Homo sapiens: one gene and its partners. The protein of the gene in region 1 interacts with the protein of each later gene in a pairwise test. Each region holds a gene or a part of one and is shown in the gene's direction. Other genes may lie near its edges. The genes, in order: CCDC33, DGCR6, CINP, MAPK9, EMC2, CCDC102B and RNF6.

Region 1 (4,353 bases):
ATTACAAAAATGTTAAAAGAGCGGATCTAAAAATCAAAGAAACACAATATTTACCGAGTACCCGCTGCTTGCACGCCCTGTGCTAGACATTTCACACCCCCTCTCTAATCCTCAAGGTAAATTACATTTTGCAGACATGGGACTGGGACCTGGGGAGAAAAATCTCCTCCTCCTGGGTCACAGAGCAAGTGAGCGGCAGAGTTGAGGGTGAGCCCAAGTCATGCTGTCTCCCAAGCCAGTTCCTTCTGAGCTGCCTCCACATGCTGCCTTGGCCAGAAGGCCCAGGAGAGTTGGGGGGTACATGGAATAAAGCATTCCCTGGAATGCACCCCTGGAGTGAGCAACTGGGTCCAAGCCATGGACTGAGGGGCCTGAGGCTCCTCACTCCAAGGTTGGGCCTCCCAGGCCAGACCCCTGCCTGTCCTCCCTCCTAGTGCTGAAGGGTAAGGGGTAGAATTCACTCTCTCATTGCTCAAGGACTTATGAAGCACCTACTATGTGCCAGGTAGTGAGCCAGAGATGAACAGAAGCATCACATTCCCCTCCCCACTGTGCATTCCAGACCCTGAAAGTGGTTGAGAGTAAAGAACAATGTGAAGCCAGACTGTCGGGGGTCCTAGACCAAGTTTGTTGCCTCCTAGCTGGATACCCATGGAAGCCACTTGGTCCCCAGGCCTCCATCCTCACTGGCAAAGCTGGCACAGTCGTTTTGAGGATCTCAAGCAATGATAGGCAAGGTTCCTGGCATACAGTAGGTGCTCAGTTTGGTCAGTTACCCTCCCCCATCCCTCCTCCGGGCCAGCACTGAACTTTCTTCTAAGCATTTCTTCAATCATGGCACCAGGGGGCTTTACCTTCTCTTAGGCCCCATGAGGAACCCCAATCCCAGGGCTTCAGGATGGGCCATGCAGGGAAGTAAAAGAGAGATGTGCTACTCACCCTGGGAGACTCAGCACTTGAGCTGTAATTCTGGGGGCATCACCCAGGCCCCCTGGCTGTCTGTTCACTTACAACCCAGGCCTTGTTATCACATCTTTACTGGAAAGCAGACAGGCAGTGGTCCTTGTGAGGGTGATGAAATATTCAAATGGAAAAGGGAAGATTTATTATATTGATCTCCTTGGAAGGGCTCACAGGGACCATGAGCTTTAATTATCAGCTCGGAGCCCCAGCGGAGCAATGCCAAGTGATTGTCTGCAGAGGGCTGGATTTATGGCCAGGATCTGCCCCTTAGACACTCTCCTTCCTCTGTGTCTTCTGCCCCAACCCTGTCTCCAGCCCACTGAGTCTGGGAAAGCCGATGAAGCCACTGCCAAGACCCAGTTGTACGCAACAGTCGTTCGGAAGAGCAGCTTCATACCCCGCTACATCGGCTGCAACCACATGGCTCTGGAGGTACCAGGGCTGGGGCCCTCTGGGGTGGTGGTGGGGGTGGGAAAGGGCCAAGCTTTGAGCAGGCCCCACGCCTTGCCCTTAGCCCCCTCTGGCTGACCTGAGGGTGTGGAGCAGAGATGTCAAGAATGGAAAAAGCAACCAGGCCTTTCCAAAATAGCAAAAGGAGTTGTGAAGACAAGCCCTTTGGCAGGGATGACAAGGATGAAGATGCTCAAGCCTCTTCTCCTTCCCTCTCTGTCTTGGAGGTGGCGGGGAGGGGCTCAGCCACACTGCTGCTCCTGGTGTACCGTCTCTGTGCTGCAGTGGGGACCAGAGCCTGTCTCCCCGAATCTTATGCTAGGGGCAGGGGAGAAGCCCCGTGCTCCCCCTGAGCCCACAGCCCAGCAGTTTCCTGCTCTATTCTTCCCCTCCTGGGATAGTGCCTTGGCCCCCAAGCAAAAGTTTAGGGCCTCCTTGAGCTTTCCTTCAGCACTGTGTCTAAAGAGGTTTGACTGGTCTGGCGATTAGGTATTTAGTTTATTCATTCATTTATTCATCCAGCAACTGTTTACAGAGCCTCTTCCATTAGCCAGGACAGGGCTGAGCCCACCTTGGGCCTGGCCACTGCCCCTTGACCCATCACCATCCACCCCCTAGGCCAATTAGCAGCTTTGGGAGGAACTCTTGATGCTCAAAGCAGACATGATGCAGGGACCTGGCCCCTCTCCCATTCCCCCCAACTTTCAAACTGCCCATGGGTGACAGATTCAAATTCAGCTATGGCCTGAGTATGATCAGGGTGGGAGCCACAGGACCCAAGCTCTGAGCTTCCACCTACCCAAACATGGCTGATCTGTTCCTATCCTTCCCACCCCCCTACTTCCCACCAGCACCGTGGGCCTGGCAGGGAAGGAAGCATTCTTTTGCCTTCTTTCACAGCCAGGGACACTGAGACCCAAGGGGAGTATGGTATGGGAGCCAAAACTCCTAACCCACATTTCTACTCCCCTACAGCCACCCCTCTGATGCCAGCATATCAGACCTACAGGCGCCCTCTGCTCCCCGCCACCTTCTATCACGCCCTTTCCTGAGGACAGCCAGCAATTCACACACACACAGAACAAGGAAGAGGGGCAACAGCCTGGCCTTGCTGTCCCCAGGCCGCACCCCACAGGGAGGAGGCCACATCCCCAAGACACAGGCAGAACTTTAGGGCTGCTGTGGAGCTGCCCCACCCCACCCAGCCCTCTGACTTGCCTGGTAGAGCGGTAGAGTAGGGGCCTTCTCTGGCTCACAGCACCCTGCCCACTCTCCTGCCCCAGCACAGATGCCCTCTCCATCCGTGCGACAGGTATGGCCACAGAGCAGCTGCCTGCTCCTGATGGTGAGCGCATGGCAGGAGCAGGAACTTCTGCTACTTCCCAGGCTGTCATGAGCAGGTGTACTTGGGCAGCTGTCTCATTCACACCTGATCAGAGTCCACACAGAACAGGTGCAAATTAGCTGCCACCACCCCCTTTTTAGTCTTACACCTGCTGGGGAGCCTGTGAGCAATAGGGCCTGCCAGCCTCCAGTGAAATCCCTCAGCCCCAGACCCCAGACCCATCCAAAGTGTGAAATGTACCATCAGAGATTCAATCCTTTGAATGTGATGAAGGGATTCAGTCTCCAGAGCCCTCAGTGAGAGCTGCGAGGCCCTAAGGACTATTGTACGTGCCCATCAGCTCACACCTGTGTGGGGTTAGAGGTGGGAAAACCAGCTGAGATGGGTATTGAAAGAGGAGCCTGAAAGGAGGGTGCGGAGGGAGAAAAGGGAGAATGATCCAGAACAAGCCTCACTCCTGGGCCCTCGCCAGCCACAATGGGTTGGTGGGAGCTGCAGGGAGTCTGAGTAGAGGGATCAGCATGTGCAAAGACCCTGTGGCAGAAATAAGAGGGGTAAGTGGCAGGAGTAAAAGAGTCTGGAGCAAGAAGACAGGGGCTGGGGGCCTGTCGGGAGACACGGCAGAGGGGCTTGTGGGGTGTCGGGCAGGGAATAACGTGACCCAGTTCATTTTTAACAAGAGCACTTTTGCCATCATGTGTCAAATTGCCTGGGAAAGAGGATGGATTAGGGAAAGGAACAGAAGTGGAGAGGCTAGTGAGGAGGCAGAGGAATCGAAGGAGCAAGAGGAATGAGAGCCGAGTGGGAGGTGGGTGAGGGCTGAGGGAGAGTGGGAGCCATTGGTGGATACAGGGTGAGGGTCAGGGTCCGGGAGATCAGGGCCTCTTAGGCTGGCAGCAGAGGCGCATGGGGACAGACTCCCTGTCTCCCCTGTCTGCCTTCCAGTGTCCCCCAGGCCCAGACTGAGCAGGGGGTCAGTGAGGGTTGGAGCAAGGTGACGCTGTCCACTCCTGCTTTGTAACCTCCTGCTGGGACCCCGCTCGGCTCTCTGAAAGCTGCGCCAATAGAAGCCTGGAGTAGAGGAGAGGGCAGTCAGGACTGGGAGGCAGGGAAGCCTTTAGGGGGTGACAGAGGACTGAGGAGGGAACAACCAAGGGCGGTCAGGGGAGTGACAACCGGGATCTGATGAAGAAAGAGGAGCCCAGAGATGCGGATGCTATGATCCTGTTCCAAACCAGTACTTCCTGGGGAAACCAGCAAGGCAGGAGAGCAGGCACCAGGGTGAGCAGTGGAGCAGGCACCAGGGTGATGGGCACGAGGGAGGCAAGGGGAGCCTGGCTGTGGCCGCTGATCTCAGGAAGTTCAGCATGGTCGGAGAAACCAGACCTGGGCTTCCTGTCTTCAGTTTATAAAGTGCTCTCTCACAAACGATCTAATCAGAGACCCCTCACAGCCCTGGGAGGAGCCTCATTTGACTGACAGAAACCAAGGAGCTGGAACACCTAGCCCTACCCCTAGCCCAACCCCTCCCCAGGAGCCAGTGGAGGGGCCGAGGTTAGAACACAACCTCCCTTCCCAGGACCCAACTCTCATCG
Region 2 (4,122 bases), on another chromosome or scaffold:
CTTTCTGGTTCAGGTATGTGTTCAGGCTCATCTTTTCTTGTTTTCTCCGTGTCTCAGTCCTGGAATCGGCCATTTTTCCACAGAGTTGTAGTTCTTTCTAGCAGGATGGGGAGTTTCAGTAACTGCCTGGGCCCAATGCTGTTTGTGCTTCAGAAGGTTTGGGCCAGGTCCTGGTTCCACCAGCAGCAGGCATGCCTGCGTTGACTTTCTGCTTCTCCTGCTGATTTGGCAGGGGTGACTGGCTGCTCCTGCCTCCTTTGTGTTCCCGGTCGTGTCTAAGGCCAGGCCCCTTCTGCCCAGGCAGCCGGCGTGGCTCTCTTCTTGCCTTTTGGTTGCATATCTAGTGGAATCTCGTAGTGGACCTGGCACTTGTAGCAATGTTTGATCAGTAGAGTGAAGATGATGACATTTCCCTGCTTCCCTGTGTTATGGAGCTGTCTTGAGGGGGGCTTTTGGTAAATACCATCGTCGAGGTGTGTACAGAATGCCAAGAAACAGGAGATTGGGGAAGGCTGTAGGCACAGCTGGAGCCAGGCTACCTGCAGGGGAGCCTCAGGGGCCGTGGAGTTCCCTGGAGACTTGCCACCAGAGAAGAGCTGCAACATCAGGGCTCTTCCCAGGAACAGAGTGTTGGATTTCACGTTTTGTTGTGGCCAGGGACCCCTCCTTCCTGGGGAACTGTAGCCATTTGGCACTTAATGCACTGGCGCCAGCTGCGGGGTGCTCCATGTTCCATTTTGCCATGATGGTTTATGTCCCATGATCGCTTCCTCTGTACACTCCCTTCAGACTAGAGTTTGCACATCTGTGTTTGTGCACAGTTTAGCAGGGACCGTGGAGCTTTGCTTGGTGGCCGAGGGTGAGCCCCTCAAAGCCACACAGACTCCCTGGCCCAGAGCCTCACAGGCTTATGACACCCCAGGTTCATCCCAAACTTGGGCCTCCCAGGTCAGCTCACCCTTCTCCCTCTGGTGCTGTGTAGGGGCTGGGAGCTGCAAATGGGGGAGGGGGCTGCCCACCCTGAAGGGCAGCACCAAGGGTGGAGGGGCCAACCACACACCTGGTAGGCAGAGGCCCCACGCTCAGGGTCAGCGACCCGGCTCCTCCTGCTCCTTTCCCATGCCTTTGCCTGAGGTGGTCTCCAACACTTGAGTAGATGTCCTATGGCCTGTGGCCACGGGGGCCCTGAAGCCCTCAGACTGCAGCCTCCCTCCCGCCTGCCCCCTCCAGCTGCCCTGGGTCTGGGGCTGCAGCTTTGGCCCCACCTGGCCAGTCTTCCCCACCCCCACTCTCTTTCAGTGCCCCGCACCTTCTGGAATCCCCTGGAGACTTGCCGTGACAGTGGGGTGGGAGGATGGAGGAGGCTGGCGTCCTCCCCAGTGCAGACACCCCTTTGGCCTGGCTGCTCTGCTGGGTTGGTAAGGCAGGTGCCCATGGGTGAGGGCTGCTGCCGAGTCCCACCGCCTGCTGACGGGCTCTCATCCCTCCCAGTGCTCAGGCAGGCGCTGCGGCAGAAGCACCAGGAAGCCCAGCAGGCCTGCCGGCCCCATAACCTGCCTGTGCTTCAGGCGGCTCAGCAGCGAGAACTAGAGGTACTGGGGACGCAGGCAGGGTGGCCGGCCCAGCTCTCCTGTGGGCACCACCTGGCTCTGCTGACTGGGCTGAGCTGAAGGGGTGTGGGGGGCTCAGGTGTGGGTGGCTACCCTGGGCCTGAGTGGGACACTGGAGGCCTAGTGAGTCCCACCAGGTGGCTCCTCGCTGAGGGTGCCAGGTGTGCTGGGACTGGGTGGAGGGTGAGAACCCACCAGTGCTCCCCTGGAGTCCATTAGTGCCCCTCGTGGGTTGGGGTCTCCGCAGAGCAGGTGGCCTCGGGGGGTACAAAGGCAATGGTGGGGTGATGGGGCCAGCCAGGAAGGGGCCCATCCTTCTCCCCGGGAGCACAGGGACAACCAGAGACCGGCATGTAACCAACAAGTCATGGGGCAGGGTGTGCCTGCGGAGATGTGTGTGTGGTCCCAAGGCAGTCCCAAGTCAAAGCATTCGTGGAAGCCCCTTGGGGCCCCCTTCAGGGGTTCACTTGGCCGAGGAGAGGCCTGGGTGTGGTGAGGATGCATTGGTGGTGTCAGAGCTGGTGCTGTTGGGGACAGCAGCAGGAGCATGTGTTTGAGCTGCCCTCACCTCCCCCGCCGCCCCCGGCCCCACGGCAGGCGGTGGAGCACCGGATCCGTGAGGAGCAGCGGGCGATGGACCAGAAGATCGTCCTGGAGCTGGACCGGAAGGTGGCTGACCAGCAGAGCACACTGGAGAAGGCGGGGGTGGCTGGCTTCTACGTGACCACCAACCCACAGGTCAGTGCCTGGGCCTGCTCTGTCCTAGCCCGAGTGCCCCTGGGCCCCATTCCATCTGGGATTTCACTGCTGGTCCCTGGGGAGCCAGGCTCAGGGTATAGGGGGTGAAGTGGAAGGATTGAGGCTCTGGAAAGGATTTCTGTGCCATTCCCAGCATGGAGGCCAGGCCCATTCCCTACAGGGGGGTGAGCCAGCCAGCCATGGGCACTGCCCACCCTCCCCAGGCCTGCTGTGCCCCACAGGGCCCTCTTCTGCTCCCCTCCCGCATGCCATTCCAAGTGGCCCTGCTGGGTGCAGAGGCTCAGATTCCGAGTGGCCCTGCTGGGGGCAGAGGCTCAGATTCCGAGTGGCCCTGCTGGGGGCAGAAGCTCAGATTCCACCCTGTCGTAGCAGGCCATGACCAGGCTTCACAGGATGGTCGCCCCGTGGGCTCACTGCCTGGCACCTTTGGGCCGGGATGAAAGGGGCCTGGGGGTCACTCTGGCCTTCATGGGGCCCCTCTGTATCCCAGGAGCTGATGCTGCAGATGAACCTGCTGGAACTCATCCGGAAGCTGCAGCAGAGGGGCTGCTGGGCAGGGAAGGCAGCCCTGGGGCTAGGAGGTCCCTGGCAGTTGCCTGCTGCCCAGTGTGACCAGAAAGGCAGCCCTGTCCCACCATAGCCACAGGCAGCAGAAGTCTGGGCAGAGTTCATCTTCTTGACCTTTGGCCACTGCCTTCCCAGCTGCCCGCAGGGGGTTCCCCCTGCTGAGGAGAGACCAGGTGGACCCCAGCTGCCTGTCACCCTTCATCTGGGACTTGCTGTCAAACCCTAGGATAGTCTCATAAAGGGGAGGCTGGGCCAGCCTGCTGCTGTCTGCTTCAGGGCCAGGCAGAGAGTGAGGCTGGGGGTTCTCACACCTTACTCCACCGGGCACATCCCAACCTGCACTGGGGCCCACTCGAGCGCTTGTTCTGGTCTCAGCCGCTCCCTTGGCAGCTGCAGCCCCCATGCAGAAGAGGCTCCCAGGCCCAAGCTCTGTGTGACCCAGAGAAATAAAGATGCCTCAGTGTGGCCCGCATGTGGCTTGTGTGATAGCTGCAGGTTCTGCCATAACCGGGGCCCTGGTAGGGCCCCCACCTCTGTTGCAGCAGAGGCCTCTACCTGGGGGCCCCTTCCTGGGCTGTGTGCCCAGCCCACCACCCCTCCCCCTGCCTGGAGACTGGGACCCTCCAGCCTTTCCTGCCCCAGCCCTGGTCCCAGGATGCTGTCACTGCCATCTGTACAGGGGCCCCCATCCAAGCCCCAGGGCATGAGGACCACATCCAGCCTGCTTTGTGGGGCTGGGGGCTGGAGAGCATGGGAGAAGGCCCGAAGTGCAAGTATGCGCCTGCCGCAGCCTGGTCAGTGTCCTGTGGGAACCACTAGGAGGAGCCTGATGCAGGTCACTGGGGTAGAGGACTCAGGGTGGCAGGAATGGCCTGAGGAGGAGCCCTGCGGGGAGGCGTGCCAGGCCCACCTGGGGAGCTTGGCCTCTGCATCTGCATGAGTCCCCTCCGTGCTGGCCTGGGCCCATGGGCCCTGCTGGGTCCTTGTGGAGTCAGGGTTGGGGGTGTCCAGCACCCTGGGTGGCCAGGTCTGCGCAGGGCCTGGCCCCCAGGAACAGATGATGCTGGAAGCCAGAGTCTGGGATGAGACTTCTCTGACCCTGTCTGAGCCACTCCCTCTTTGTTGCCCAGAGCTGACCCTGTGTGAGGGCAAAGGGCTCTCAGCTGCAGGAACAGTGGTTTATTGA
Region 3 (3,407 bases), on another chromosome or scaffold:
GTGACGTTGCTCTTTCTCCTCCTCCCACGCTGTGCTCTTTGGCAGGAAGTCACTATGCATAGCCCACACCTGGGGGTAGGGACGTATTCACCACCTGCTTGAGGGTGCAGTATCTACATAAATTATTTGGAATTATTCTGCGTGGGAGATTTGTTCCCTCCCTCCCATTTGTTAATTTTTTTTTTTTTTGAGATGGAGTTTCACTCTTGTTGCCCAGGCTGGAGTGCAGTGGGGTGATCTCTGCCCACTGCAACCTCTGCCTCCTGGGTTCAAGTGATTCTCCTGTCTCAGCTTCCCAAGTAGCTGGGATTACAGGTGCCTGCCACCACACCCAGCTAATTGTTGTATTTTTATTTGTTTTTTTTTAATTTTTGTTTTGGCCAGGCGCAGTGGCTCATGCCTGTAATCCCAGCACTCTAGGAGGCCGAGGCAGGTGGATCACCTGAGGTCAAGAGTTTGAGACCAGCATGGCCAACATAGTGAAACCCCATCTCTACTAAAAATACAAAAAATTAGCTGGGGGTGGTGGCAGGTGCCTGCAATCCCAGCTACTTGGGAGGCTGAGGCGGGAGAATCACTTTCGGAGGTTGCAGTTAGCCGAGATCAAGCCACTGCACTCCAGTCTGGGCCACAGAGTGAGACTCCGTGTCAAAAAAAAGAAAAAAAGAAAAAGAAAAGTGGTTTGGGAATAAGTTCTCATTCTATGTTCAAAACCAAAAGTTGATTTTATAGGGTATTATTATTTTTCCTATTTTCCTCTATCCGTTATAGAGAATGGTTTCCAGACCTGGTCTGTGTCTTTCATAACTTTGACCTTCTGGGGGTTTCATGCACCGTTCTTCCTAAGCTGGGCTAACATTTCACTGTGGTCTGTGTTTGCTGTGGGAAGAAGCCACCGATGTTGAAATGTAAGGGCCTGCTGTTTATGCACTGTTCATTCAGGGCTGCACGTGCCTATGTGACTTGAATTCTTTATTGATGGCTGAGCTGCAGGATTGAGCATGACTTCTTGCCTGGGGTCAAGGCTCCAGAATTTTCCTTAGTCTCCTGTTATCAGCTTTTCTTAGAATCAGGTGGCACCAGGGAGCTGCTGCAGGACTCACAGGAAAGAGCAGAGGATTGGGTGTTAAAACTTGGTGTCGGCTGGGCGCGGTGGCTCACGCCTGGAATCCCAACACTTTGGGAGGCTGAGGTGGGCGGATCACAAGGTCAGGAGATCGAGACCATCCTGGCTAACACAGTGAAACCCCAGCTCTGCTAAAAGTACCAAAAAAATTAGCCAGGCACAGTGGCGGGCGCCTGTAGTCCCAGCTACTTGGGAGGCTGAGGCAGGAGAATGGCATGAACCCGGGAGGCGGAGGTTGCAGTGAGCGGAGATCGCGCCACTGCACTCCAGCCTGGGTGACAAAGCGAGACTCTGTCTCAAAAAAAACAAAAACAAAAACAAAAACAAAAAAACTTGGTGTCAGAAGGCATGGTATCGAGTTCTGGCCTCATCCTTCCTCAGCTCAACCTTAAGCAATTTCCCAGCTGTGAAACGGAAATGACAAGTCCTGCCTCTTGGGGTTGGGCCAAATAAAATATCAAACCTTAAAAGATTTGGGAAACTACTTAAGTAAAGTCCTTTAAAAATTAACGTTAGCTGAATTTAGTGCTTGCCACTTCCAATGTAATTGGAGGGTGGTTGGAAGGACCAAGTAAAGGAATTAAGATATTTGACAATTTATATATCTTTTCTTATTTCCCCTTTTTCATATTTATGTATGTAAAGTCAACTATACTTAGGAGTTCAAAATTTGGTCTTTATAGACCTATGCTACTTAAATCTGAAATCCTAGTTACTTCACCCATTAATTTTCTTTATCCAACCCTTATATATCTCCAAGTAGGTGCTTCACAAATACTAACTCACTTAATCCTCTTCACCAAGCTGTGAAAGTAAGCCCGCCATTGCCCCTATTCTGTGCTGCCTGGTGTGTGCAGTGGGGTTGGTTTAGTGTCTCCCACAAGTAGCCATACACATCATGCAGTTACAGGGCTTAGGACAGAGCCTGGTCCACACTGAGGGACCGTCAATGGCAGCTTGCCACGTTTCCTTCCTTTCTGCGTGAAGTGTGTAGGGCTCCCTTTCTGTGTTGCCATTTTATAAACAAGGAAGTCAAGGAGGTTTCCGTAAATAAAGGCAGTTAATAAGAGAGAGTCAGGCCTGGTGCGGTGTCTCATGCCTAGAATCCCAGCACTTTGGGCGGCCGAGGTGGGCGGATCACGAGTTCAGGAGATCAAGACCAGCCTGGCCAACATGGTGAAACCCCGTCTCTACTAAAAATACACAAATTAGCTGGGCGTGGTGGCACATGCCTGCAATCCCAGCTACTTGGGAGGCTGAGGCAGGAGAATCGCTTGAACCAGGGAATCAGAGGTTGTAGTGAACCGAGATCTCGCCACTGCACTCCAGCCTGGCACTGCACTCCAGCTTGGCAACAGAGCAAGACTCCGTCTCAAAAAAAAAAAAAAAAAAGAGAGAGAGAGAGAACATCAGAAACGAGCTCATTTGATAGAGAGACAGAGAGCCTCAGAAACGAGCTCATTTGATAAAAGAGAGAGAGAGAGAGCATCAGAAACGAGCTCATTTGATGCCTTTCTCTCTCACTTCTTAAAAGCAGCAAGAGCCAGCCAGGCGCGGTGGCGCATGCCTGTATAATCCCAGCACTTTGGGAGGCTGAGGCGGGAGGATTGCTGGAGCCCAGGAGTTAGAGACCAGCCTGGGCAACATAACGAGACCCTGTCTCCACAAATTAAAAAAAATTAGCTGGGTGTGGTGGTGCACACCTGTGATCCCAGCTACTTGGGAGGCTGAGGTGCCAGCGGTTGAGGCTGCATAAGGCATGATCATGCCACACAGAATGAGACCCTGTCGCAAAAAAAAAAAGAAAAAAAAAAAAAGGCAGCAAGAGCCTGCCTTGGGATTCCTCCAGGTCTTTGGGTCTAAGACATTAATGCTGTTTGGAAATCCTAGTGAAATGGCACTCGGAAACCTTTCTTGCTCTAGGACTGGAAATCTGGGGTTTATTACCAAAGTCATTCAAATTAATGAAATCATAGCAACTGTCCACCTTCATCTCCCTGGGAATTTGCTGTACGTAGAGTTAACAGTGTTTAGTTATTGGAATTTTTATCATAATAGACTTACACTTCTTAGCTTTGAAATCTTAGAGTTATTAAATCTGAGACTGGAGATTTCAAATAATATTATCATATTCCAAATGGATATCTTTCAGACCAAAATACAGGTGAAAATGGAAAAGCTGTCTTCAACTACCAAGGGAATTTGTGAACTAGAAAACTACCATTATGGGGAGGAGAGTAAACGACCCCCTCTGTTCCACACGTGGCCTACAACCCATTTC
Region 4 (4,353 bases), on another chromosome or scaffold:
TTCTGGTATATAGTCTTTATTTATTGCAAAAGATTTCTTTGAAAGTTGATGCTTTTTTTCCTGTAGATTTAGTGTTTATGTTATAAATTGTTACAATTCAAGTGTCTGGTGACACTGGAATCCTAGTCAGGCTTAAGCTTTTGTGATACTGCATTTTCAGATAAATATAGCTGTGTCCTTTTGATGTCTGCTTGAAAGCAGCAGGTATTTTTTAAGTAGCTAACATGATTATACATGGCCACATATATGTTTAGCTACTGAGAAAAAAAGAAGAATCTTGCAAGGAAAGACATAGGAATATGGGACTCTTGGCCCAAAGAAAGACTCAAGGAAAAGTTCAGAAAGTCCAGCTGACTGACTTCTTGTCTATACTCATAGTTAGGATTGGGAAACTGCAAAAGGACAGAGCCGAGAAATGGCCTGCAGTCTCGCTGCCTGGATTTGCAGCAATGTCGTGCCTCAGATTTTATTATATTTGGTTTTCTTAGCACAGATGCAGCAGTAAGTAGCAACGCCACTCCTTCTCAGTCTTCATCGATCAATGACATTTCATCCATGTCCACTGAGCAGACGCTGGCCTCAGACACAGACAGCAGTCTTGATGCCTCGACGGGACCCCTTGAAGGCTGTCGATGATAGGTTAGAAATAGCAAACCTGTCAGCATTGAAGGAACTCTCACCTCCGTGGGCCTGAAATGCTTGGGAGTTGATGGAACCAAATAGAAAAACTCCATGTTCTGCATGTAAGAAACACAATGCCTTGCCCTACTCAGACCTGATAGGATTGCCTGCTTAGATGATAAAATGAGGCAGAATATGTCTGAAGAAAAAAATTGCAAGCCACACTTCTAGAGATTTTGTTCAAGATCATTTCAGGTGAGCAGTTAGAGTAGGTGAATTTGTTTCAAATTGTACTAGTGACAGTTTCTCATCATCTGTAACTGTTGAGATGTATGTGCATGTGACCACAAATGCTTGCTTGGACTTGCCCATCTAGCACTTTGGAAATCAGTATTTAAATGCCAAATAATCTTCCAGGTAGTGCTGCTTCTGAAGTTATCTCTTAATCCTCTTAAGTAATTTGGTGTCTGTCCAGAAAAAGTCGATTTATGTGTATTAATTGGCCATCATGATGTTATCATATCTTATTCCCTTTTATGCTATGATTTATTCTATCTTTTGTATTTCAGAAGACATATAATTAAATCTATTTAATAAATAAAAATATATAGCTTTTCTTAGATTTGTGATGTTTGGGGCTGAGAATTATCACGGCTAAAACCAAGACACTTATGTGGACATCTTGTTTTCTTTAAACTGTCTTGTCTGGGATGATTGTACATTCAGCTTTACTGCACGATACAATTTTAAGTTTTGCTTAGTGCTGCTTGAAATCCTAGCTACCTTATCTCTTTTCTTCTTGGTCTTCTAGACTTCTTATGAATTTAAAATGCTACCTAGAACTTCACCTTCTTTATTAGGTGCGTAACACTCCATCTTAATTAAATATGATGGCAGATAGGTTCCTGCATCCATGGCCTAACGTTGGAGTGGAATTTTACAAAATGCTCACTAGAGATCACTGCAGTCATTTCCTAAGTGCTTCCTTTGCCACAGACTGGCCTGGGTCCTTTATTTACCTTCCCTCATTCACTTTCCCTCGGCCAATACCACGTTCTTGATTTTCTTTCTTCACTGGAAGAAAGCAGATAAACTCCTCTTTGGTCTGTTTTCAGAGGCCAGGCTGATTCAGATGCCTGTTGCTATTGTTGCTCTCCATTGTTGGGAGGCATTCCTTTTCACAAGAATGTTCTGGGAAACTCTTCAGAGGACGTGAAGGAAATACCCTGAAGAGTCATGATTAACTATTGACTATTTTCTGATTTAAAACTGCTCACCTGAAATTGATACTTTTAGACTTTACGATCAGTAAATTATTCAGAATTCATGAAGATGCTGAGTATGTTAAGTGTCACTGCAGGAACGGAGCTGTGGTGATCACGTTTTGCCTGCCTGTGCCCATGTCTCTTCCCTTGAGCTTATTCTGTTGCTGATTCATATCTTGTGTTCAATTATTTTGGAAGCTTTTCAGTCGACATTCTGTAGAGTGTGTTCTGAGGAGGAACTGTGATAAGAAAGTTTATTATAAATATTATGTAAAATATATGGCTCTCTCTGCACCAGTTATATCTTATTGGTTGGTCATATCACTGGAAACTGGAACCTTTGATTAGCAAAATTAATATTGAAATAAGAAATAGTTCTTTTATATTGTGTCATTTGGACACTTTCAAGTACAAAATGGTAATAATAACTTGGATTGAGGCGGAAACACCTATTTTATGGCTATCTATCTAAACATCTTAAAATGGCCTTCTCTGTAATACACTTTCTTTTAAAAGACTTCACTAAATCTATCTTTAAAAGGAAAAACAAAAGGGAGAGGTTGAAAATGCGCGAGCTGCCCTGCACTGTGTGATGCTCCCTCCCCGGGAGACGTGGACGGGGGACGAGGCACCCGCAGACGCCCTTCTGCTCACTCGCTCCTCTGTGCATTCAGCGAGCCACTTGCCACAGATGGAGCCCGTGACGGTGTGGAGGGTTTCCTGGAAAGGCCATCTTCCACCAGGTAGAGGCGAGCGTGCCTAGGACAGGCCACAGGGCTCCACAGAAATACCTCACCCCAGCTTCAGGGTTCTCTCTCCTGAGCCTAGATTTGCCAGGGTCTTGGTGCCACGCAAATGGTTTCAAACTGATCTCTATGGATAAATGCTGATGTTGGTTAAAGAACTGAAAAATGTGCTCAACTGTTTCATCTTTTCTATTTTATTTTTGTAATTTATATTGTACACAACCCAGGAAGTAACTATTTTGGACATGTATTTTTATAAACCAGGTAATTTACTATTATCCTGGAATTTAGACTAGGTTTGTTTCATTTGTTGACTTAGTTTCCAGCCAAGAAGGAAACGACTGTCTCCCCCATGTCCAGGTCTCAGTTTCAAGGGCAGAGTCCAGAGAGCAGACAGAGTTCTGTGAGAGCAGGAGAGCAGTCTGGAAACCCTGGCTGTGCATACCGTGTCAGCCGTGGGCCTGGAGATGGGAGCAGGTGAGACGCAGAGCCCCAGTACTGAGAGGAGGAAGCCCTCTTACAGGGCCCCTTGCCCACCCCAAGTCCGTGTCTGAAACACGGAGCGGGTGCTGCTTCAACCCGCATTTAATGCTGTGTAAGTAGCGATAACCACGTACGAGTCTGTCTGGTTGATTTCTAATGTGACTCCTCTGGTATTTCCTCCTGGTAATAAATACAAGTGTGACCTTTCAGATTGCATATCTCAAAAGTAACATTGCTAATGTTTTATAATAAAATATATTATGTGTGTTTTGGTTGGTGAAAATAATACAGACTACATTTTAAAAGATAAATGTATAGCATGTCCAATTTTTGTGTGTTTTTACATGGCAATTAGATATTTCTCCATCACCATCTCTGATGACAGATTTAACATGAACACAGATAGATGATAAAGTGTCATGCTTTTGATCAATATTAGCAAGAGGTTTCACACTGAGAGGCAGAAACATTGCTGTTTGTTCTCTTATTGAAAATATTCTGCAAATTCCTAAATCTGTGTTTTCAAAACTAATGGCAGTAAGTTTTGACTTCACCAATATGCAGGTCCAATTCAGAGTATTGGTGTAATTGTTTTCTCATGAGGCGTGGCCAGGAGAATTCACCAGTCAGCCTTAGTCATGTTACTTAACGTCATTCATGGTGCTTGTGGCTTTGTGCCTGGGATGAGCCAAGTTCATCTGACGTCTGTGTTTGAAGCACTTCAGGCTGTTTAGTACTTAATACCACAGGAGTGGAAGGACACTCAGTGGCTCACTTTCTTTTCTCTGCTTAAAAGGACTAGAAGCATTCCAGAGAGATGAGTACCAGCTGTGTGTGTGTGTGTGTGTGTGTGTGTGTGTGTGTGTTTAAGACGGAGTCTCACTCTGTCTCCCAGGCTGGAGTGCAGTGGCACTATCTCGGCTCACTGCAAGCTCCGCCTCCCGGGTTCACGCCATTCTCCTGCCTCAGCCTCCGGAGTAGCTGGGACTACAGGTGCCCGCCACCACACCCGGCTAATTTTTTGTATTTTTAGTAGAGATGGGGTTTCACCGTGTTAGCCAGGATGGTCTCGATCTCCTGACCTCGTGATCCGCCTGCCTCGGCGTCCCAAAGTGCTGGGATTACAGGCGTGAGCCGCCGCGCCCGGCCCAGTTGTGTTTTCAAAGGTCTTGAAAGAAGGAAGATGTTTCTTGAGATACTGGGGTCTGGGTCTGGGTTCCATTTCTCTGTCCTATTCC
Region 5 (4,353 bases), on another chromosome or scaffold:
ATATGTGATGCTAATTGATTTTTGAGAAAATATCTTGGTATTCATTTTACCCTAAGAGCTGCTACTACCTGCCCATTTTATCTTGCTTTATGCACCAGTGTCACAGTTGTGCTCAACCCATTTAAATGTCTAAGAACTTTTATTCTTAGTCTCAATATGAATTTTTGGCATCATACTATTAATAATTAAAGGAACACATTTAGAAGAGAACTGTCTTTTGATAAAGTGTTTAAGGTAGAGACAAATTTTCCCTTTTCTTTTCGAGTGATAAATATATATTAGGTAGGTAGTCATAACACATTTGTTTTAGACATTTATTCAATCATTTGTTCAGTCTTATTAAATACCTATCATGTGTCAAGAACCAATGCTAGGTTTTGAATTTAAAAATGGAAAGGGCTAAATAGCTGCATGATCTTGGATGAGAGTACACACACACACACACACACACATACATATATATATGTGGTCCTTCATAAATCTAAAATGCTGTAATTATTAGGTAATCTGCAGGGTGTATTTTTTTTCCTCAGTCCCTTTGGGTGTGACTGCTGTACACATTTTCATGTTACCATTGACATCTTCAGTTTTTCAATGTGATGTGTAATGCATATAAGCAGCATATGTAGTGGTTGAAGAGTACAGGCTGTCTGGAGTGGCACAGCCTGGGATTCAGTTTACATCTCTGTGCCTCAGTATTCTCAGCTCTAGCATGTTGATAATAATTTCCTTCTTCCTAGGGTTTTGGTAGGATTAAATGAGTTAATACATGTAACACATTTAGAACAATGCATGACACGTAATAAGCATTTAGTAAAAGCTATTATTAGTATACATGTGTGAAACAGGAAAATAATTTTTAAAAGTATATCAGGCAGTAGTGTAAAGGTAGATCCCTTTGTATACTGGTAAATGCCAAAAATAACTTTAGGTAGCCTCTTTTTGTTGGGTAGTGTCATCACTTCCTCACTGGGAAGAAATCTTGTAACACCTGTGTTCATTAGAATTTCCTGTAGATAGTGAGGATAGTCACATGGCATTAAACGTTTAAAATATATTTAGTGAATTACAGTCACATGCTTTAAAATGTTTTTCCAGAGCTCTTTCTGGCAGTTCTCTTTCCTTAGGTTTTCAGCAAGATTTTTGTTTATTCTACCACAAGATTAAATAATAGTACAGTATATATCAAAACCAACTTGATCTGTTTTTCATGGGCTTAGAAATTTATAACTTCATTATAATTTGGTATTTGACAGTGAACTTAAGTAATGAGAGAAATCTTTGTAATAGAATATGTTGGTAAATATATGCCTGTGAAGAATTTTTAGTGAGTAGAGAATATTTAATAAAATGTTTATTTTCTCCTTACACATTAGCTGTTTGAATATTTTTTTAAATGATCAGTCAACTTCCAGAAGTTGTTTTATATACAGCTTGATCCAAGGTCTTGAAGCCCTTCTTATTAGTAGTGATGGGATGTAGTAGGAGTGACCCAGTTTTTGAAATGTAGTATCTATTGATTGTTTGCAGGCTGCTTTAAGATTTAAGCCTGTGTTTATTAATTTCATGATAAAATTTAATGTCATTGATATTTATGAATTTCAGATGACAAATACTTTATTAATAAAGCTATGTAAATTATATTGGGAATAAATTGTTTAACATGACTAAAGTTGTTTTTAAATTATTTCAAGGTTTAACTAAGATAAAAATTTGTGACTTTAAAAATTAATTTCTCCTCTTGATGTGTTTTTAGCTATGCAAAAGCAGCCTTTTGTTTAGAGGAACTAATGATGACTAATCCACACAACCACTTATACTGTCAGCAGTATGCTGAAGTAAGTGTTTTCAGAACAATGGCATATAATTTTATTTTGGTTACTATTCGGTGTTATTATGGAACTAAGAATATTTCCTTGATGTTAAGCAAGTATATAAATATTTAAAACATCTGATGAGCATTGAATTGTGGGAATAAAAGTTTAAAATTTTTAACATTGCAGTGGTAATACTGACTTAAGACATACTTAAAACAGTGAAATTCCTTGTATTTTTATATTTGTATACTATTTTCTTTCCTAATTATAAGTTATATCACATTTGTCACCACTTAATGGCTTGTGAGACATTTATAGTGATTATGATTGTTAAATCCATATTCTGGGAAATTTGTATTAAAGCCAATTGGGACATAAGTATTTATTTAATTTGCATATTATTAAGAATAGCAGTACAACTGAATGCTATAAGGCTAGAAGGACTTCATTATTAAAGAATGTCCATGCAGATTATAAAAGGACAATTCAATATTTAAGTCCACATTTATAATGCCAGTAATAGAAAATACAATGTGAGGTGAAGCATTTGCGAGGCAGCTGAAATAGAAATTATTCTGGCTTTTTATTGCGGCAGCATTTTTGTTTTAGAAACTACTCAGTCATCTCAATGTTCATAGAATAGAATAGCTTTTTTGGGGAAGGTTATGTTTGAAATTTTAGATTAGCTTTAAAAACCTTTAGGTGAATTCTTTTAACATCTTGTATTTGTTTACAGAGAATATCTGTTTCGATTACTGAATGCCTATGGTATGATGAAACCATGCTATATTTCAAAGTAGTAAAATAAACAGTTTTCAGCACTTTGCAATTTTTAACAGGTTAAGTATACCCAAGGTGGACTTGAAAACCTCGAACTTTCAAGAAAGTATTTTGCACAGGCATTGAAACTGAACAACAGAAATATGAGAGCTTTGTTTGGACTTTATATGGTGAGTTGAGGTGCATGTTTAATGTTATTTTTAAAAATCTGTCACTTAAAATCCATTTAACTATCCCCTTCAATCACTCCTCTCCTGTTTTTTGTATTTTATTGATAAGCATGTTTTTTTCTGTAATTAATTCTGAGCAATAGCTTGTGAGCCAGTTTTCTTTTTGAATGTTAACACAGCCTAGCTGTTTGACATTCTTTTTTTGTAAACTATCTTTTATATCAGAATTGAAATCTGCCCTTATAAAATTAAATAGTGACAGATAGGAAGAAAACATGATTTCTTGTTTTGATATTCTTGGGTTTATGCCCAACATTATTGTATTTCTTCCCTAAATTATAGTTGTATGAGGTATTTTTAAACAGTGCCAATAAAATACATTAGAAATCAAATCCCTAATACATCAAATTAAAACATTTTTTATGGTGTAGAAAAACAGTTTGGAAATTGTGGGAAGTATGTAATGACCTATTGTTTAGGTATGCCAAATGCTGAGCTTAGAAAAGTCAATTAATAAGAGCTGTGGGAAATAGAGGAATAATCTGCTGACCTTTAAAACATATATATAAAGTGAGCACCTCCCTACAATAAGAAACGCTGGGAGAAATAAACTTTAATATTTTATTTATCCTGTTCCTTTGACTTCTTGATGAGTGTCTTCTTGTTGCAGCTCAGTGAAAAGGAACTGAGTGAAGAAATGGAAATAGGAAGAAACAAAAATGAAACAATTTTTAAAAAGGAATGGCAAAATATGGTTAGAAGGTGGTTCAAATGAATTTCAAGAAAATTTTCCTGGATTTTAGCAAAGCCAATTGCAATGGCTTGAAAATACGCTATAGTAGAAGTATCTCTGTATCAAATAAATACTAATTTTAAAAACTAATATACAACAAATTAATAATAGCTTATACATGGCACTTCATGTGCTGGGCATTGTTCTGAGCTCTGTTTTTTATTTTAAATCAATAAATCCGCACATCAACTGTTTGAGTAGGTGCTCTCAATACTATCCTCAGGTGGTGAAACTGAGACACAGATTTAATTAATTTGCCCAAAGATGGGCACAGAGCTCCTAAATGATCGAGTTGGGTTTCCAGCCCAGGAAGTTAACTCCAGAGTTTTTCTCGTAACCACTGCATCTGCTAAAATTCATAAGAAGAAGGTAACATTAAAGTCATAGAGGTATAAAAATCAGATTTGGGGATATAGATTCTTCACTGGCAGAGAGGGAGACATAGGTGAAAGAGCCTATAGCACAGGCTGGCATAAAACAAAGGCTTAACCTTTTTTTGAATCACATGGTCATATTCTTTTAAGAGTAAAATATATTTAAGAATAGGAATCAAGTTATATCTTACTCTTCACAGTAATATATACATTTAATAATTAGCATATGATTTTGGGGTTTTATGGATTCTTTCACAGATCCCAGATTAAGAACCGCTCATTTAAATACATTTTTAAAAAGGAGAGGGTGGATCAAATTGCAGGGACTAATTAGTTCTCTGAAACACAGTTTGAAAACTCATGGTATAGTGAAAAGAGAAATGGATTAGAGATAAGGATCTTCTTTATTTCGAAGACCC
Region 6 (4,353 bases), on another chromosome or scaffold:
GTGGAGGAGCAGGTGTAGATGTGAGGGGAGTTCAAGTGTTTGTTTTTGAACATGTGAAATCTGAGATGCTGATTAGATATCCTTAGTGATGTTAAGTGGGCAGCTGGACACGTGAGATCCCAGAGATAAAGGAACATCTCAGGCCAGAGATATGTCTGTTAGGAAATTTCAGAAAATTAATGAATTTGAAGTCAAAGGCCTGGATGCCTTCACCCAGAGCAATTACCCCAGCCTGAAGTCTCAGTGTTGGAGCGCTTGCAGTCAGAGGTGTGAAGCTGAGACAGAATGTGGGGCAGCTACCAGGGAGTAGGAGGAGAACCATGAGAGAGGATGCCCTCAGAAGCCAAGAAAGGGAATGATGAAATGGACAATCACATACAGGGCTTCTGGTTGGCCAAGTAAAACAGGAATTTCAGGCCTGGAATTGACCATTAGATTTGCAATGTAGAAGTCACTGATTTCCTGTTTTTGTGGCAAACTAGAGTTGAAAATGATACTGCGACTTCAAGAGAAAATGAGATAAATGAAAGTGTCTTTAAAATAATTTTTATTTTAGAAAATGCCAAAGATATGGAATGGCTGCTGGGTTGGGATCAAAATCTTTTTTTTTTTTTTTATGTTGAGGGTATTATAGCATGTGCATTTGCTAATGGGAATAATCTAATCTAGAGAGAGGTACAAACTAGTTAAACAGGAGAGGAGTATATTTGAGGAGGCCATGTCCTGGAGCGGATTAGAGGAAATTAGATAGAGCATACAAATGGGAAGTTTGGTGTTAAGAACGTGGAGTAATTCTCTATAAAAACAGACAGAATAACATATGGGTATCCATTAGACACATAGATATGATGGAACCAGTGGATGGCAGTTGTCTTATAATTACATATCTTTTGTAAGTGAAATAGAAAAACCCCCGCAATCTCAACAGATAAGGCAGAGCTGAATAAGATATGAAAATTTTGAAGATAGCTAATGTATGGGATTATTCAGTAGAATGTTTGTGATTTAATCAGGGAAAAATATTAATTTCCCTATGGTAGAGTTGGCTTGGCTACATTAAAGCCCATATGAGGTTCAGAGTCAAGAAACTGAAGTGAGACCAGATAGCAATGGGTGTGTTTTCTCAAAGCCTGATCAAGAGTGTAGGTGCAGACATGGAGCAGGAAGACAGCTGTGATTCACTGACATTAGAGTTTCTAAGCAAGTAGGGTCAAGAGAATGCCAAGCTTGCTCAGAGCAATTTGTTAAAACTGGAGCACAGAATAGGGAGGAGAGAGTGGATGTGAAGCCGATGAGGAAGAGAGAAAAAACAATACAGTCCATTGACAGGAGGCCATAGCTAGGTCAAAAAAGAGAGTTATGGGGACAATAGTAAAGGGTAATCAGAGAGGTGCTTATCATTGATATGGAAAGAAATGCTAGTATGGTAATGGGATCTAGGTGCATAACCAGCCAGTGAGTGGGTGAGGTCATATTATTGGAATTAATAGGAACTGAGAGGTGAGGATGTTGTAACGACACTATATATGAAATACTTTGGACATGAAAATTTTTCTTGTCCCTGAAAACATATTCAACTTCTCCTAACCTATTAACATAATTGGTTTCATTATATAAATGTTAATACCCATTCCCATGCCAAGACTCTACAGTGTTGTCAGTGATCTCATTTACTTTTCTCTCTGCTTATGTAACATTTTGATCAGTCCTACAGACTGTATTAAAGAGCAATCTTCAGCCAGTGATCAAAGCAAGACAAAGAAGCCTTCAAATACAGCAGATTACAAGCCCATAATTTTTTTATGTGTTTATCATTTTGCCAAAATTTTGGATAAAAATAAAATTATATGTATTAATAATGTTAAGAACACATGAATTAATATTATTTTTAGGTTTTTATTTACAACTGCTGTTTTAACAATGACATACATTTTTAAAATTAATAATTATTTTTTCCCATGTTGTCTAAACAGCTTTAAATATATTTTAATGGGATGTCTCAAAGCTTAGATAAGAATGCTCAGCAAACATATCCAATTTTTAAAATGATATTCATTTTATTTTTGTATGATTATTGCAACATCACCTCTTCTGTATTATGTGGCCATGTGGAAGAGAATGAGAATGTCACATTCACTTACCTTTGAATAGCAGGCTACTTTGGTATGCATTTTTATTATCAGTAGAATATGTTTTTCAAGCATATATTTGCAAGTAATATTATTAGTAATTATCTTAATTTCCTGTATTTAGGAAACCTCTAGGTGTTAGAGACAGCAATATTGCCAAAACATTCTGAACATGTTTGAAAAAAATCAGAATGCAGTTTTCTATTTCTGTAAAATTCTCTGTGGAAAAAGAGAAGCTCTTAAAGTCTATTGGATGCTCTACAGCTATTTTGTCCAATAGAAATATAATTCAAGCAACATTTGCAATTTAAAGTAGCTACATTTAAAAAGTTAAAAAATGAACATGTGAAATTAATTTTAATAATATTTTTGATTTAATCCAATCTTTCAAAAATATCACTTCAAAATGTAATTAGTATGAAGTTATTAATGAGATAGTTTACATTTTTACGTTTCATGCTGTGTTTAATTAGTACTCACCGAACATCACAATTCAGGCGACCCTCATTTCAAGCGTTCCCTAACTACATCTGATAGGTGACTACCATTTAAGACAGCACAGGTTTAATACTCCAGAATATAAACGGTTCAAAAATATCTTCATAGCAACCATAGAATACATTTCAGGCATTGTATTTATCTCCTTGTTGAAAGGGGGAACACATATGAGTTTGAACGACCTTATCAAGGAAGAGAATTTACCTCACATTTTCTGAACCAGTGTTCTCTGGGTTCTACTATAGCTCTCATGTTATCATATTTACATACTTATGTTATTTTGATACTGAGAAGTATGTTAAAGATGGTGGCCTCTAGAAACAACTGGGACCAATATATTCTCTGCTTGCTATAATTTAAGAAAATTTACTAATTTAAGAAAATTTAACAGGTGTGAAAATCAGGCAATGATAAAAATGATAAAACTCAATTTAGGAGTCCACACAATTCTTAGTACTTTTTCTCTTTTTTTATAAATTAAATGCAATGTATAGATCTGGGAAATCATGAGATATTTAAGAAAAACAAGGAAAAAATAGAGTTTTTGAGGAAGAATTAAGATATGACGTTACAGGAATTACTTGGGAAAGAGTTGAAGACAATAATTACATGATTGGGAGGCAAAATAAAAACCAAGCAAGCTTTGAGAAATGTAAGAGTTTAATCTGGTCTTCCACTCTTTGCAGCTTTCCTTGCACATGGCGTCCATTTTCTGTTTTAGGGACTGGAAAGACAGATCTTTTGAGAAATACAAACACTGAGTATTCACTTCCTGTTATTTTGACATTTTTAATCCAATTCCTTTACTTGTCTTTACTAAGACAAACAACTATGCAAAAATGAAAGGAAACAAATGAAAACGGATCCCAGATCAATCAGCAGTTGTGTTAAGGATTCTACTTTCTAGTTAAATTTTTTATTTTCTTTATTGCTACCTTCTCCTATGTCAAAGGATGAAAACCAGAAATATAAACACTTAAAAAAAAAGATGATTGCAGAGTTGGTGGCCTCTATGTCTGAATAAATTACTAATTTATTTTGGCTAACATGGAGAAAATATGAGCAGGGATGAACGTTTCACTAGGATTTGAGCAACTAATCTTCGAATCAAAAGCTAACTTTTTTTTCTTAAGATTCCACGTCTTTTCCTTCTCAAGATTACAAACTCATCTATAAGTTTCATATTATAGATGTAACTTTCCCAGTGAAATCAACATTTTGGATCTCACTATTATAAGAAGTAGCTTACATATTGCACAACCATTCTATTTTGTTTTTCAAGTAACATATCTAAAATTGGATTACTTGTTTTATATTATATTAAGATGGAAAGAATTAGAACAAAACATGTGATGGATATTATTTTTATCTTAGAAGAGTTCATATAAATATAATAATTCTACAAATCAGATTACAGTGGCCAGGACAAAGAAGTCAGCATTTTGTCAATATATTACTAGCTGCTGTTCCTAAAATTTTTGGTGATATACTTGCATGTATTAATATTTCTCTTTGTTGCATAATAAAATAACATTTGGTTTTTGAATCATTCCATTGTTATTTCATTGCTTTTACTACTTTTTTTTTTTTTTTTTTTTTTTTTGTGAGACAGAGTCTCGCTCTTTCGGCCAGGCCGGACTGCAGTGGCGCTATCTCCGCTCACTGCAAGCTCTGCCTCCTGGGTTCACGCCATTCTCCTGCCTCAGCCTCCCGAGTAGCTGGGACT
Region 7 (4,353 bases), on another chromosome or scaffold:
TTGTTTGAACAGAAAGCCAGGAATCTCAGGATGAATCAGTCTAGATCGAGATCAGATGGTGGCAGTGAAGAAACCTTACCTCAAGACCATAATCATCATGAAAATGAGAGAAGATGGCAGCAAGAGCGTCTCCACAGAGAAGAGGCCTATTATCAGTTTATTAATGAACTCAATGATGAAGATTATCGGCTTATGAGAGACCATAATCTTTTAGGCACCCCTGGTAAGAGATGGGTAAAAGAGGAAACACCCTTTTTTCATCATTTAGATGGAAGGATTTCAAGATAAGGAGAATTGGTATTCTTTTTCCTTGCTTCTCTTTATGAAAATATAGTATATTGTTTTTGTGAGTTTAAGAACTTTTTAGTATAATAAAGTAGAAAATCACTGGCTTCTGTATTTTATAAGGTGAAAATAGGGGACATGGAGCACTATTATACAAATGCCAAACTAAGAAACAGGTTAATGTACATAATGGTGTTAAGTATTTACATATATGGTCCTATTTGTAATTTTTATACAAATAAAATATGACTTAAAACCCAATTTGAACTCATTTGGGGTATTATAATTTATTTATTCAGCTGAATTAATAGCTCCCCCCAAAGCCCAATGTGTTCCATAAAGTTTTTACAAATGAACTAATGGAAATTTGTATGTTTATATATTGTGTGTTTGTATATTGATGACCCATATAATGAAGTATTTGGGATAAAATTCAAGTAAATATTTGAAGTTTTCTCTATAAATGCTCCCTTAATTTCTTTTTAACTGACAAAAATCCACAGTTATAGCTTATAGATTCCTAAGTGTATCAACTGGCAGCACTTTACCAACTATTCAAATTAAATCTTATTTTAATAATTTTTAATAAAAGATTAATAAATGAAGCACAACCGAATTGATGCACATTTGTACCAGTTGAATATTTTTAACTGTCTTCAATTTACAGAACATATGAAAGTAATAAGACATTTGTCTTCTATAGGTTACTAAAGATTAGTCTTACCCTTCATGAGGTCTCATAAAACTTAATTCAGAATTCTTAAATGAGCAGTTTTTCATTGTTTTAGGAGAAATAACATCAGAAGAACTGCAACAGCGGTTAGATGGCGTCAAGGAACAACTAGCATCTCAGCCTGACTTGAGAGATGGAACGAATTACAGAGGTACTATGGAGTCCTTTCCATAAGGAACAGGCTTGATTGGAGCACTTGCAGAAATGAAATTCTTAGACCTTGTATAGTATGTTTGTCTTCAATTTTTTCCAGTTTTAATGTGATACTCATTCAGATAATATATATATGAGTAGTAAAGCAGTATGGTTAAGCAGTATAGGACAGAGGAATGAATGCAAAGATGTCTTAAACACACAGATTGCCTTCAGAGAGCTTTATGTAATAATATACAATTAAGTTAATTCCCAGCATGCTTCTTTTTAATCTTGGAATGTACACATTACTTTTTCTAAAGTGATATTACTTAGCTTCTAAAAATTTATATACAGAACCGTGTAGAAAGACTGAGTTAGGAAACCTGTTTTTGTTTCTTTGTTCTGTTTGATGGTTTACATATAAAAAGTTCTTATAAGGAAAGTACTATAAAAGAACTTCAAACTAAATGAAGTATGTAGAGTTAAAAGGAAAAGCCACTTTTGTGTTCCTCTTAACCAGTTCTACTTCCCTCCTCAGAGGTATTTATTAGTAGTTTCACATATTATATCAAAATCATTGTATTAGTTACCATGAAGTCTATGTAAAAACCCCAAAATGCAATGGCTCAATAAGCTAGAAGTTTCTTACTTACGTTAACAGTCCAGGGAAGGAAATCCTCTTGGAACCCACTCAGCTAACAGAATGATTCTACAACTGTGCTGTTCAGTACAGTAGCTGCTAGCCACATGTGACTATTTAAATGGAAATTAATTAAAATCAAATTAAATTTAAAATTTAGCTCATTCATACTAGCCACATTCAGGTGCTTAATAGTCACATTTGGCTAGTGGCTTCTGTATTGGACAGCACAAATACAGAACATACTCATTACTTCAGAAAGATTTATGGGGCATCACTGCTCCAGGGTACCATTTGTATGATCAAGGTAAGTCGCAACCATATCTAGGTTCTAGCTGGTAGGAAGGAGGTCCACGCACTAGCGTGAGAGTAGGATGTATCGCTTACTCTCCCATTCCATTCATGAGAACTTAGTCTCATGGTCACACCTAACTGCCAGGCTGTCCACGAGCCAATTTCCGATGCTTTTACAATGGAAGAAGAGTAGGGTAGCTTTGAGTAGGTACTTGGCAAACTCTTTCACATGCACCATCATCACTACACTTAATCAAATGTTAATCAAAGAAGGAAGTAGCATTTAAAATAATTCATGTTCACCTGCCTTTTACTCATTCTTTTTCCAAACAAATGGGAAGTGGACATTAACACATTTTATTATTTGTGTTTAGATATGTAAGTTGTACTATATAGATGCAATAATTAATACTGATCTTTTGAATATGTTTCAGTGGAAAATGTACTCATCAAATATAAAATAGCTCATCATCTCTGGAATATGGCTCAGTTGCTGTTTATTTTATTGGCATCAACAGCTGATTAATAGCTTCAACTTCAGCATTTAAAAAAGTCTTACGAGAGAGATTGCAGGAATGAAATGAAATCAGAATGATGTCATATAATAGCTATTTTATTTATTTGTTTATTTATTTTTTGAGACAGAGTCCTGTTCTGTCACCCAGGCTGTAGTACAGTGGCACAATCTTGGCTCACTGCAACCTCTGCCTCCCGGGTTCAAGCAATTCTCCTGCCTCAGCCTCCTGAGTAGCTGGGATTACAGGCGCACGCCACCATGCCTGGCTAATTTCTTTGTATTTTTAGGAGAGACAGGTTTTTACCATGTCAGTCAGGCTGGTCTCGAACTCCTGACTTCATGATCTGCCTGCCTTGGCCTCCCAAAGTGCTGGGATTACAGGTGTGAGCCACCGCGCCCGGCCTATAATAGCTATTTTTGAGTAGAACAAACTTTAAAGTTGAAGTTTGTGTAGTTAATGTGTTGATGCTTTTTATTAAGTTTTGTACTTTATATAATATCTACTGGTTATAAATGGAAAATTTAAGCTTGGCACAGTGGCAGTATCTTAGTCAAAAAAGTTTATGGGTGACACATTTCTAAATTGATTAATTGAGCAATATTAATTGAAAGTCTGATTTATACTAGATACTGCTGTAGAGGCTGGAGATGTAACAGTGACTAAAACTACAAAAATCTTTGTTTTCCTGGAGCTTACGTTCTAAATGAATAGAAAATGTATTTTATTATGTATAACAGCTAACATTTATGGGGTGGCTTTTTATGTGCCAGATATTATGCTAATTATGTTATATATAGCGTCTTATTTTATCCTCAGGATAACCCTATGAGATTGATTCTATTATTAACTCCAGTTTATAGACAAGGATCAGCCATAGAGACCTTAAGTAACTTGCCTGGTTTCTCAGCTTCACACAAAGACAAATACAGTAATGTGGTTTTAATGTTATATTCAGAAACTCACATTTCTTGATGTGTACATTTTTGGCAGCACCTGAGAAATAGGAAAAATTTCTAAGATTACAGAAATACCTAGTTGCAAAAATGACTGAGTTGGCTTTTCCAGAAAGATTCCACAAATACAGGACAAATTTTACATAAAGTTTGTCTTTGTATTTTATTGATATTACTATATTGATAAAGCAATTTAAATGTAAACTTTTGGTAGTGGACATGTTTCTCATTTGCCTTAGTATTTTGCTAGTAATGGGCAGATAGAAAGTAAGAATGAGGATTTCTCCATAGCGTTGCATAAATAGTATTTAAAGCTTTGTAACTATGTAAATAGTAATTTAATTTTTATAATATGCTTATAGTAGATATACTTTTCTTTTAGAAAGTTGTCTTTTTGCCATCTTTCATTCATTAAAATCCACAGATGTTCTTTAATTTATTACAAACTTTGTTTTTCTTACAAGTTTTCAATAAAGCTGTAAGGTGTGTCTTAGGAATTGATCTTAAGTTGATTTGCTTTGCTTTCTAGACTCAGAAGTCCCTAGAGAAAGTTCACATGAAGATTCTCTTCTAGAATGGTTGAACACCTTTCGGCGCACAGGAAATGCAACTCGAAGTGGACAAAATGGGAACCAAACTTGGAGAGCTGTGAGTCGAACAAACCCGAACAATGGAGAGTTTCGGTTTAGTTTGGAAATCCACGTAAATCATGAAAATAGAGGATTTGAAATTCATGGAGAAGATTATACAGACATTCCACTTTCAGATAGTAACAGAGATCATACTGCAAATAGG

What was found.
Region 2: the proteins of CCDC33 (region 1) and DGCR6 interact in a two-hybrid assay, tested with the Homo sapiens proteins (one large-scale study listed by BioGRID).
Region 3: the proteins of CCDC33 (region 1) and CINP interact in a two-hybrid assay, tested with the Homo sapiens proteins (one large-scale study listed by BioGRID).
Region 4: the proteins of CCDC33 (region 1) and MAPK9 interact in a two-hybrid assay, tested with the Homo sapiens proteins (one large-scale study listed by BioGRID).
Region 5: the proteins of CCDC33 (region 1) and EMC2 interact in a two-hybrid assay, tested with the Homo sapiens proteins (one large-scale study listed by BioGRID).
Region 6: the proteins of CCDC33 (region 1) and CCDC102B interact in a two-hybrid assay, tested with the Homo sapiens proteins (2 studies listed by BioGRID).
Region 7: the proteins of CCDC33 (region 1) and RNF6 interact in a two-hybrid assay, tested with the Homo sapiens proteins (one large-scale study listed by BioGRID).

Annotation. Positions count from the first base shown.
Region 1 is NC_000015.10:74,267,064-74,271,416, forward strand, and holds part of CCDC33 (coiled-coil domain-containing protein 33), read left to right. Parts: intron 1-1,278; coding exon 1,279-1,395; intron 1,396-4,353.
Region 2 is NC_000022.11:18,908,681-18,912,802, forward strand, and holds the end of DGCR6 (protein DGCR6), read left to right. Parts: intron 1-1,299; coding exon of another isoform or gene 1,300-1,418; intron 1,419-1,491; coding exon 1,492-1,592; intron 1,593-2,207; coding exon 2,208-2,348; intron 2,349-2,859; coding exon 2,860-3,009; 3' UTR 3,010-3,408; downstream 3,409-4,122. UniProt on the Homo sapiens protein: May play a role in neural crest cell migration into the third and fourth pharyngeal pouches.
Region 3 is NC_000014.9:102,349,920-102,353,326, reverse strand, and holds part of CINP (cyclin-dependent kinase 2-interacting protein), read left to right. Parts: intron 1-3,278; coding exon 3,279-3,407. UniProt on the Homo sapiens protein: Component of the DNA replication complex, which interacts with two kinases, CDK2 and CDC7, thereby providing a functional and physical link between CDK2 and CDC7 during firing of the origins of replication.
Region 4 is NC_000005.10:180,232,667-180,237,019, reverse strand, and holds the end of MAPK9 (mitogen-activated protein kinase 9), read left to right. Parts: intron 1-488; coding exon of another isoform or gene 489-493; coding exon 494-636; 3' UTR 637-3,877; downstream 3,878-4,353. UniProt on the Homo sapiens protein: Serine/threonine-protein kinase involved in various processes such as cell proliferation, differentiation, migration, transformation and programmed cell death.
Region 5 is NC_000008.11:108,474,126-108,478,478, forward strand, and holds part of EMC2 (ER membrane protein complex subunit 2), read left to right. Parts: intron 1-1,756; coding exon 1,757-1,838; intron 1,839-2,656; coding exon 2,657-2,767; intron 2,768-4,353. UniProt on the Homo sapiens protein: Part of the endoplasmic reticulum membrane protein complex (EMC) that enables the energy-independent insertion into endoplasmic reticulum membranes of newly synthesized membrane proteins.
Region 6 is NC_000018.10:68,804,264-68,808,616, forward strand, and holds part of CCDC102B (coiled-coil domain-containing protein 102B), read left to right. Parts: intron 1-4,353. UniProt on the Homo sapiens protein: During interphase, forms fibers at the proximal ends of centrioles to maintain centrosome cohesion. During mitosis, dissociates from the centrosome following phosphorylation to allow centrosome separation. Contributes to CROCC/rootletin filament formation.
Region 7 is NC_000013.11:26,215,327-26,219,679, reverse strand, and holds part of RNF6 (E3 ubiquitin-protein ligase RNF6), read left to right. Parts: intron 1-12; 5' UTR 13-30; coding exon 31-223; intron 224-1,073; coding exon 1,074-1,169; intron 1,170-4,087; coding exon 4,088-4,353. UniProt on the Homo sapiens protein: E3 ubiquitin-protein ligase mediating 'Lys-48'-linked polyubiquitination of LIMK1 and its subsequent targeting to the proteasome for degradation. Negatively regulates axonal outgrowth through regulation of the LIMK1 turnover.